Regions from separate parts of the Homo sapiens genome. Here all the other regions are linked to region 1. Evidence: fine-mapped expression QTL. A gene starts in region 1. Each other region holds a variant in brackets. All regions are shown on one strand. Distances are from middle to middle.

Region 1 (2,688 bases):
TAGCATGGAATTTTAAAGACAGGGCACACAGTTATGAGAAGCAGCCCTAAACTAGAACAAATATTTCCTTATTCTCAGTCCAATGCTCTTTACTATATAAGAGGCAATAAGGGATAAAGAATGCGGGCTGGGTTCAAATTCGTCTTCCTTTCCCATTTAATAGCTATGGTCCCATTCTGTTCCTCAGTCCTCTTATCTGTAAAATGGACATAATACTAACCTGTACCTCTTAGGGTTGCTTTGAAAAATTCAATGACTTTATACATGTAATTCCCAGAATCAGTAAACACCCAAAAAATGTTTCTCAGTGTTCTCTATACCAAATGTTCAGTACATGTATTGAACTGTTCACAAAAGAAAGCTAAAGACTTTTTATGTGTAAACAGTGATCCTCCAGCCTCTGTCTGATTTATTTTTTATTTATATATTTTTTTGAGACGGAGTTTCGCTCTTGTTGCCCAGGCTGGAGTGCAATGGCGCGATATCGGCTCACCGCAATCTCCGCCTCCCAGGTTCAAGAGATTCTCCTGTCTCAGCCTCCCGAGTAGCTGGAATTACAGGCGTGCACCACCACGCCCGGCTAATTTTGTATTTTTAGTAGAGACGGCGTTTCTCCATGTTGCTCAGGCTGGACTCGAGCTCCCGACCTCAGGTGATCTGCCAGCCTCAGCCTCCCAAAGTGTTGGGATTACAGGCGTGAGCCACCGCGCCCGGCCTGTCTGTCTGATTTTATACTAGCTGTGTACAGTGGTGAGGGAACAGCAGCCTAGGACCACAGACTGAGGGTCCAAAAGTAGCCGGAAAACGAGCCACGCTGCAAGGTGGAAAAATATTAGCTGGCAACCCGCCCCGCAGCCCGCTCTCCGCCCCCTTCCCCGGCTCACTCTCCTCCGGGCGGAGTTGCTGACAGACAGTCTGTCTTAGCCACCCCAACCTCGCATTTTCTCAGCGCTCCGCCCTCCCAGACACGATAGGTAGTTGGTCTCGGCCAATGGCGACATCCTGTCATACGAGCGGTAGCCAATGAGTAGCCAGGAGTCCGGAAAGGGGCGAGGCCGATCTGAGAGCCGCTGGCGCCACTAGAGAAGGGCGAGCGGCGCGGCAGAGTGCGGCGCAGCGCAGCTCCTGAGGTAAGATGGCGGTGCTCTTTCCTCTAAGCTCTTGCGGTTGGGCTGCTATTTCGCTCTTTTTGTCAGCTCAGAGCTGCTACTCCGCCTCAAAGCAGTGTCAGAGTCAGTCTCCTTCCTGCAGGCTTCCAGGAGCCAGGATCTCCGGTGACTGGAGCCGTAGGACAAAATGGCGCTCGCATAGGCTTCCGAGGCCAGGCCCAGTCGTGCGCTCTGAGGCAGGCCGGGACAAAGGCGGCGTGCGGGGAGGCGGCGTGGCCGCCGCGTGGGGCTGGTGTTGTCGCTTCCCTTCGTGCTGCAGCTGTGCGAGTCCTGAAGATACATTCAGCGTGGTGTGGTTCGGGGTGGGGCCGGGCATGGAGGGACACGCTAAAGGGAGGCAAAGCCACAGATGCCTGTGGAGACTTGGGGAGGGCGGCGGGGACTTACGGAGCGTACCTTACGGGGACGACTTCTGCATGTCCTTTGGAAACTGTCCGCGCGATCTGTGTGGAGCAGGAATTTTCGGGAAGGGTAAGGGCTTTTTGGTCTTTCGTTTGACCCCGCAGGTTTTGGTTATGAACAGGATTCGGATTCACGTCTTGCCAACCAATCGGGGGAGGATCACTCCAGTGCCCAGGTCTCAGGAACCTCTGTCTTGTGCATTCACTCATCGTCCATGCTCTCACCCTCGTCTGGAGGGGCAGGAGTTTTGCATTAAGCATATCCTTGAAGACAAGAATGCACCCTTCAAGCAGTGTAGTTATATATCGACGAAGAATGGAAAAAGATGTCCCAATGCTGCCCCAAAGCCAGAGAAGAAAGATGGGTATATATGTATAGATATATATGTCGTTTTTCTTAAAGCGAGGGGGTATGTGATATGATGCGGGCTTCAGCATAGCTGCCGCGTTTGAGATTTTGTCCTTGTAAATTTGGGGTTATGGTTGTATCCTTGGAAAACTGAAAAAACGGTGAAGACTGGAAAGACCCTTGAGTTGGATTACTTAGTTCACCTCTTTGGTTCTTTTCCCTTATCTGTAAAATAAAGGCATATTCTAAATTAGTCTTTTTTTTTTTTTTTTTTTTTTTAAGAGAGATGGGGTCTTGCTATTTTGACCAGGCCGGTCTCAAACTCCTGGCCTCAAGGTATCCTCCCATCTCGGCCTCCCAGAGTGCTGGGATTACAGGCGTGAGCGACCGCGCCCGGCCCTAAAGTTAATTTTTTGGCGGGGGGGCGGCGCACAGATTCTTGCTTTATTCCCCAGGCTGGAGTGCAGTGGAGATCTCGGCTCACTGCAACCTCCTCCTTCCAGGTTCAAGCGATTCTCCTGCCTCCTAAGTAGTTGGGACTTAAGGCGTGCGCCACTATGCCCGGCTAATTTTTGTACTTTTTAGTAGAGACGGGGTTTCACCATGTTGGCCAGGCTTGTTTTGAACTGCTGACCTCAGGTGATCCATCCGCCTCGGCCTCCCAGAGTGTTGGGATTACAGGAGTGAGCCACCGCACCTGGCCCCTAAAATTCTTCTTAATGGAGGGGTGTGTGGCTCTATTTGGCTGTCCATGAATTTTGTTAAATAA
Region 2 (2,688 bases), 40 kb after region 1:
AATTAGCCTGGTACAACAGTGCTGTGCACCTGTAGTGCTAGCTACTCATGAGGCTGAGGCGGGAGGATTACCTGAGCCCAGAAATTTTGAGGTTGCAGTGAGCCACGATCATGCCACTATACTCCAGCCTGGGCCACAGAGCGAGGCCCTACCTCTTAAAAAAAAGAAAACACACACAAACCAAAAGAAAATGTTAATATCAATAAATGTTTCAGTCAAATCTTGGCCTAGGGCTGTTTTATATTTTTAAAGTAACTTTGCATGTGTTTTATACAAGTCTTAGTGTGGAGTAACTCATTTTGCACCCACATGCTACCTAAAGCATATAGTCATGCACCACATAACATTTTGGTCACGGATGGACTACATATGTGATGGTGGTGCCATAAGGTTATAATATGGTATTTTTAGTGTACCTTTTCTATGTTTTGCTATGTTTACATACACAAATACTTACCATTGTGTTACAGTTGCCTATAGTATTCAGTGCAGTCACATGCTGTACGGATTTGTAACTTAGGAGCAATATGCTATACCATAGAGTGTAGGTGGGTGGTAGGCTATACCATCTCGGTTTGTGTAGGTGTACTCTATGATTGCACAATGATGAAATTGCCTAATGACATATGTCTTAAGAAGGTATCCCTGTTAAGCATATATCCTATTCATGACTTTTCTTTCTTTAGTCCCTCACCTGCTTCTCACTTGCCTTGTATTTGAGCATTTATTGACATATAGATGAACCTGATATGAATGAATATATTATTCATTATATTAAGCTAGTAGTGTTCTAAGTATGCTAGGTATTATTCCCTATGGTGTGCCAGAACTGTGATGGCATTGGTCTTATCCTTGATAAATAATGAATTCCTGGTAGCTATGTATATGGCCAATGCTCACAACTTTTTTTTTTTTTTTGGAATCTCCTATGTCTACTTCTTTCTACACAGACACAGTAACAATCTGATCTCTCTTTCTTTTCCCCACATTTCCCCCTTTTCTTTTCGACAAAACTGCCATCGTCATCATGGCCCGTTCTCGATGGTTGCTGTCTCTTCAGAGCTGTTGGGTACACCTGCAGAAAGGCTGTCACTTCACACTTGGAAGATTGCACAGCGGCCAGGCAGAGGTGCTCCTCACCTCCCAGACGGGGCGGCTGGGCAGAGGCGCTCCTCACTTCCCAGATGGGGTGGCGGCCGGGCAGAGGTGCTCCTCACCTCTCAGACGGGTTGGCGGCCGGGTAGAGGAGCTCCCCACCTCCCAGACGATGGGCGGCCGGGCAGAGGCGCTCCCCACCTCCCAGACAATGGGCGGCCGGGCAGAGGTGCTCCTCACCTCCCAGACGGGGCGGCCGGGCAGAGGCGCTCCTCACTTCCCAGACGGGGTGGTGGCCGGGCAGAGGTGCTCCTCACATCCCAGACGGGGTGGTGGCTGGGCAGAGGCGCTCTTCACATCCCAGACGGGGCGGCCAGGCAGAGGCACTCCTCACATCCCAGACGGGGCGGCCGGGCAGAGGCGCTCCTCACCTCCCAGA[C/T]GGGGCATCCGGGCAGAGGCGCTCCTCACTTCCCAGACGGGGCGGCCAGGCAGAGACGCTCCTCACATCCCAGACGGGTTGGTGGCCGGGCAGAGGCACTTCTCACTTCCCAGACGGGGTGGCGGCCGGGCAGAGGCACTCCTCACTTCCTAGACAGGGTGGTGGCCGGGCAGAGACACTCCTCACCTCCCAGACGGGGTGGCGGCCGGGCAGAGGCGCTCCTCACCTCCCAGACAGGGCGACCGGGCAGAGGCGCTCCTCACTTCCCAGACGGGGTGGCCGGGCAGCAGCGCTCCTCACATCCCAGATGGGGCGGCCAGGCAGAGATGCTCCTCACTTCCTAGATGGGGTGGCGGCCGGGAAGAGGCGCTCCTCACTTCCCAGACGGGGCGGCCGGGCAGAGGGGCTTCTCACATCCCAGACGATGGGCGGCCAGGCAGAGATGTTCCTCACTTCCTAGATGGGGTGGCAGCCGGGCAGAGGCTGTAATCTTAGCACTTTGGGAGGACAAGGCAGGCGGCTGGGAGGTGGAGGTTGTAGTGAGCCGAGATCACGCCACTGCACTCCAGCCTGGGCAACATTGAGCATTGAGTGAGCGAGACTCCATCTGCAATCCCAGCACCTCGGGAGGCCGAGGCGGGCAGATCACTCGAAGTCAGGAGCTGGAGACCAGCCCGGCCAACAAGGCGAAACCCCGTCTCCACCAAAAATACAAAAACCAGTCAGGCGTGGCGGCACGTGCCTGCAATCCCAGGCACTCGGCAGGCCGAGGCAGGAGAATCACGGGAGCCCGAGGCAGGGAGGTTGCAGTGAGCCGAGATCACGGCAGTACAGTCCAGCCTCGGCAACAGAGGGAGACCGAAGAAAAAGAAAGAAAGAGAGAGAGAGAGAAAGAGAGAGAGAGAAAGAGAAAGAAGGAAAGAAAGAAGGAAAGAAAGAAGGAAAGAAGGAAAGAAAGAAAGAAGGAAAGAAAGAAGGAAAGAAGGAAGGAAGGAAGGCAGGCAGGTCACAAATATTTGTTGAGTTAAATTTTTAGCATTACTAGCTTGTTGTCACTGTCTTCAGCTGCAGAAAAAATGCTGGACACAAAGCTGAAGCATGGTGCAACAGTCAGTTTTACTGTAGTCTGGGGAAAAGTCTGCCTTCAGACCAGG
Region 3 (2,688 bases), 21 kb after region 1:
GTATTTGAAAAGAGAAGGGAAGTATTTTTTTTCCTTTTATGCTCTTTCCTTTCCACTCCATAGTTGCCTAAGTCACTTACCCTTCCTTAAGTCCTTATCCCAGAGAAAGATGCGACTGCCATTGGTGACCTGTTAACTCTTTACTGTGGTCTAATGGAGACAGCACTCGACTGAAAGTGAAGGACCCAGACTCTAGTTGTAGGTTAACCATTCCCTTCTTTTTACCTCTTTTGCCCCATCTGAAAGGAAAGCGGGTGGAGGATGATGGGGGGAGTCCTTTTTTAGGATATTGTGGTATTAAATACATAAGAGACTTGTGAAAGTCCTTTGAATTCCAATAAAAAAAAGTTCTTGGCCAGGCGTGGTGGCTCACGCCTGTAATCCCAACACTTTGGGAGGCTGAGGCGGGCTGATCACCTGAGGTCAGGAGTTAGAGACCAGCCTGGCCAACATGGCGAAACCCTGTCTCTACTAGAAGTATAAAAATCAGCCGGGTGTGATGGCAGGTGCCTGTAATCCCAGCTACTTTGGAGTCTGCGGCAGGAGAATCTCTTGAACCCAGGAGGCAGAGGTTGCAGTGAGCCGAGATCACGCCACTGCATTCTAGCCTGGGTGACAGAGCGAGACTTCGTGTAAAAAAAATTTCTGGTTGAAACATTTAATGGATAATATTTTAAATATTAAGAGTGGGCTTCTTAAGCACATTAGATATTGCTTAGATTTTCTTAAGCGCATAGTGCAAATCTGATGATTCCCATTAGATTCATATGTTTATTCATTTGATCATTCAATAAATATTTGTTTGCCTTGTACTATCTTCTGTTTCTTTAGAGTAGTGGTTTTCAACTGGGGGCCATTTTGTTTTCCAGTTGGCAATGTGTGGAGAAATTTTTGGTTGTTACAACTCAGATGGAGGTGCTACTGACAGCTAGTGGATAGAGGCCAGGAATGCTGCTATACATCCTTCTTCCAACAAAGATGTACCTGGCCTACAGTGTTGGTAGTGCCACAGTTGTCACACCCTGCTTGAGAGTTTAGTTATTTCCAAGTATGCATTGAAAGAAATAGCTTTATTCAAGGAAGTTCATATGGTTTTAAAAATTATAATGTATGTTAGTTTTTTTATTTAAAAAAATTACCATAAAAGTTTTGAGTTGAAAATTATAACTCCATAATTCAGGTACTATCAGTTTAAGAAAAATTGTGTTTTCTGGTTAAAAATAAGTCAAATTTTAAAATAATGTTTATTAATCTAGGAAGATAACCAGGTAGTTAACAGATTTCAAGAAATGGTAGCACTTGCATAAAATGTGTTTTGTAAAGTAACTTGAATTTTATTGTATCTAATCATCTCAATTTTGGTTCATCCTACAGAGCTTCTTTGCTAACTTGGAAATATAGCCCTTTTCTTCTTCTACCTTTAACAAAAGTTGTTAATAGAGTCCTTGGAATGTTTCTAGAATACTTTTTTTTTTCAATGGGCCTTCATACACAAAATTTTCTTCTTCCTTTAGGATCATAAAAGGATTCCTCTGTACTAGCACACTCCCCTAAAAAAAAA[AG/G]GCATGTATATTTAATTTCTTGTTAGGATATGATACCTAGTGACTTTTACTAGAGCTCTGTTTCCCCCTATTCCAGTGGTGCTTTAAATGAATTTATCATGTAATCATCTTTGGAAACGAGGTCCAAGAAATTGTTGCAAACTTTGCCAGTCTGCTAAGGGAGCAGAGACATTGTATCGCTTGACTCTTTTGGAAGGGCTGTTTAGGGGCATTTTCAAGGCTATTTGCATTTGCCACTACATGTTTCTTCTGAATATGTGTGTGTTCCTAGGAGTGTTACTGCTACTTGCTTAAGGGAGAATGGGATGGTGTCTAGTTTAAATGACCAGGATCCTGAAAAGGAGGTTGGGGACAAGTTTTAAATTACTGGTAGAGCTAGAATTTGATGCTAGTAAATGACATTTATTTTGAGAAGTAACTTTAAAAATTGCTAACTGCATTTGGTATTCTGTATCAAATGTAGTTGTAATTTATCTTATATAGTCCACACCTTGAGTTTTATGTGGCAGACAATGCTATTTGTATTTTATGCTTTCGATAGATTGTGTTTTATTTCCCTTGACCATTTTTCTACAGATATTTGTCAGGATACGAATCAGGTTCTCTTCAAGTGCTGCCAGGGATCTGAAGAGGTACCCTGCAACAAACCTGTTCCTGTAAGCCTCTCTGAGGATCCCTGCTGCCCACTGCATTTCCAGTTGCCTCCTCAGATGTATAAGCCCGAGCAGGTACTGTCTGTGCCAGACGATCTGGAAGCCGGCCCCATGGATCTGTACTTGAGTGCTGCTGAGCTTCAGCCCACTGAGAGTTTACCTCTGGAGTTCAGTGATGTAAGTTAGAGAAGCTCTGCTTTGGTTCAGGCCCTTGAGACAAAGCCTTATTTATTAATGGTGAGAATAGGTTAGTCTTTGTGGTTAGGAGAATCGACAAAGTTTTTGAAGTGATATATACGTATAGTTGTATTTATATGTTAGCATATTCATTTAGAGAAATCTACCCTACCTTATATTTTTTTCCAGACTCTTCCCATACCTTTTTAGGGATACAATTTACATACTATAAATTGCACTCTTTGAAAGTGTATAATTGAGTGATTTTTAGTATATTCGCAAAGTTACGCAACTAC
Region 4 (2,688 bases), 52 kb after region 1:
GTGCATTCAGTTTTGCACCTATTTTACCTGCTCCCACTTCATCCAGCCCTCAGAGGGATAGAGTCCTTACTGCTGCACATTAGGTTGCAGGCATTTTCTGAGGAATGCTTGTGGTCTTTGTATCAGAAGTTGTTCAGCTGGAAAATCCCGTTGTCACTACTGCCATCAGCAGTTTTTTCCATTAAAGGCCTGGGTGTTCAAATTACTCTCACACTGAACCAAGCAGATCCCTGTGTCAGAGAGAGCAAAAGGTATGGATAGAAAAGGGAGAGTGCTCCATGATGAGAGGTCATCCAATAGGCCATGGGAAAGATGAGACATAACTTATGCTGTACTAGTGCTATCTGAAATGAAAATCCATTTTTAAGACTGAGTTGAGGCCGGGTGCAGTGGCTCACCCCTGTAATCCCAGCACTTGGGGAGGCCAAGGCGGGCAGATCACCTGAGGTCAGGAGTTCGAGATCAGCCTGGCCATCATGGTGAAACCCCGTTTCTACTAAAAATACAAAAAAAAATTAGCCGGGTGTGATGGCAGGCGCCTGTAATCCCAGCCACTCGGGAGGGTGAGGCAGGGGAATGACTTGAACTCGAGAGGCAGAGGTTGCAGTGAGCCGGATGGTGCCATTGCACTCCAGCCTGGGCAATAAGAGTGAAACTCCATCTCAAAAAAAAAAAAAAAGAAAAGAAAAAAAAAAAGACTGAGTTGAAAAAACTATGAGATCCTCAATGTCAGAGATCATTTATAATTCATATGCACTCCCAGTCCTAAGCAATAATTAGCCCATGGAAAATATACAACAATTTATTAAATGCTTTTATTAATAAATTTAGAATTTTATTCCAAATAAAATAATAATTATAATTATAATAAATTTATTAATTTGGAATTTTATTCCAAATAAATCCAAAATTATTTGGTGTCATTTTATGGAATTAAAATTGGAATGACCAGTAATCAATCAATCACAGTCTGTTTCCCAATCAACCTTTCCAGCCTCATCTCCCAGCCAAATACTCACTTGTATATATTCACTTTTGTTCTATATCCCAAGGTACATGCAAGAGAAAAGGTGGAAAGGTAGCGGAGGAGAATCCTTGGAAGGCAGCACAGAAAAACCATCCTTGGAAGGTTTCTCTACATGAGAAAGAGTAGGTTTGGCATGGAG[A/G]AAAATGAAGAAAGATATTCAAGGGAAGTTGAAATAGTTTCATTTCTTGTAACCAATAAGATGGATGGCTGAGATTCTCAATCCCTCTTGTTACCCTCATCATCACTTCCCCTTCATTCTTACAATCCCAATCTAACTCTCTTGTGGCACTAGTAGAATAACCCTGATAAAAACTTAGCTGATGTTCACTTGATTTAGAACTTTTCTGATCAAGTAAGAATTTAGTAGGCTTCTTATCTATTGCATTTCTAGAAACAGTATGCCATAGGTCTGTGTGAGTCCGGCTATTCTGATTGCTGATTTGACTCTGCTGTCCATTGTGGCAACCATGTACACCTTGCCTTTGGAGGTTGAGTGCTGCCACTTGGCCTCTGCCATCTCAGGATGCAGTCACTCCCATTGAATGTAGGTTTCCCAATTCAGTGACTGCAGTCCTCACCGTAAGGTCTGGGCTACAGTGAAGAGAGATTACAGAGCTCTTCAAGGATGCCGGGGCTTCCCTATTTCTTAGTCATAGTGAAAAGTATGTCTTCTGGGCCCTCTCACATGGGTAAGTAGGTCTTAAGTAACAAATCCACTCTAATATTTCAATATCCTTTAGCCGTTGAATCCTTTCTCTACATTAAATCAAGGCAGATCCAGCATTTCTAATTCACTTACTGTATCCCACCTTTTGGTTCATGTTTCAGTCAACCAACTAAACAAACTGTTAGAATCCTTCCTAGTTCCCCAAGCTGCAACATTAAATGCAGAATTTCTGCTTTAGTGAGCCTTGAAGGGAGAGTGAAGGGAAGGAAACCCAGATATTGCAGCTCCCCGAAGCCCACTAGGATCAGCCAGGTGGTCTGGTTCCCACTGTCACAAATGTATATCAATACATTCGGCTTTATTCAACTTTACGTTCCTTCCATCATCATCCCACAATTTCAAGATCTATTTCCATGCATGTTCACTGGATTTCTGTCTGTATAAATTAGAAAACCCAAGTAATTCTTTTGGATTGTAGTGCATGTCCTCATGGGTCACACTTTGTGCTCACCTTTAGAGGCCTGCAGGGACTTGGGTCTAGCTATAGTTTTAGAACCAAAGAGGAGTGATGGGTATGGGTTCTGAGGAGAATCAGCATTGTCTTGCATGGGAACTGCCCCAGGGGAGGCAATTACAGTTTCTTCAGGCAATGTGGGATTAATTCCCTCAGACAGGGACAGAGGCTGCTGTCGCTGGGGTTGGGGAAGCTGCTACCACTGGGGATAGGGAGGCCAATTCCAATTGGAAAATACAGTTACCTCATTTTGGTAGACATCCATTTTCAATCCCACAGTCTCCATCTTTTTATTGCAGTGGTCTCTAGTCCATCAGACTTTGAGGAAGGGGCTAAGCTGAAATCAATCCAGGAAGAAGTCAAAAGCTGTCCTGTCCTCCTTAGTGAGTGTGTCCTGGGATGAGCTGTCCCCTGAGCCTATGCAGAGCCCCCTTCACCTCTTGGTTCTTGAGGCTGTGGATGATGGAGTTGACCATGGGA

Evidence for each region. PIP is the estimated chance that this variant, and not a neighbour inherited with it, causes the effect. A credible set is the group of variants that fine-mapping cannot tell apart.
Region 2: its variant is the best candidate, but not a certain one, in a credible set for the expression of KANSL2 in thyroid (GTEx, PIP 0.51).
Region 3: its variant is the best candidate, but not a certain one, in a credible set for the expression of KANSL2 in whole blood (INTERVAL, PIP 0.69).
Region 4: its variant is the best candidate, but not a certain one, in a credible set for the expression of KANSL2 in blood mononuclear cells (TOPMed, PIP 0.69).

What each region holds. Positions count from the first base shown.
Region 1 is chr12:48,680,629-48,683,316 of GRCh38, reverse strand. KANSL2 (KAT8 regulatory NSL complex subunit 2) reads left to right here and starts at 1,079. Exons shown (of 10, transcript NM_017822.4): 1 at 1,079-1,130; 2 at 1,676-1,935. The coding sequence starts at 1,685. RefSeq lists silencers at 732-781, 822-1,031 and an enhancer at 1,112-1,381.
Region 2 is chr12:48,641,097-48,643,784 of GRCh38, reverse strand. It overlaps LOC124902928, which reads left to right and starts at 134. Exons shown (of 1, transcript XM_047429953.1): 1 at 134-2,688. The coding sequence starts at 835. The coding sequence ends at 1,878. The variant C/T (reference allele first, on the strand shown) is at 1,535.
Region 3 is chr12:48,660,070-48,662,757 of GRCh38, reverse strand. KANSL2 (KAT8 regulatory NSL complex subunit 2) reads left to right here. Exons shown (of 10, transcript NM_017822.4): 8 at 2,139-2,392. Among named protein-coding and RNA genes, the nearest start is that of SNORA2A, 4.6 kb to the right of the region's middle. The variant AG/G (reference allele first, on the strand shown) is at 1,562.
Region 4 is chr12:48,628,716-48,631,403 of GRCh38, reverse strand. It overlaps the pseudogene OR11M1P. Among named protein-coding and RNA genes, the nearest start is that of SNORA2C, 24 kb to the left of the region's middle. The variant A/G (reference allele first, on the strand shown) is at 1,167.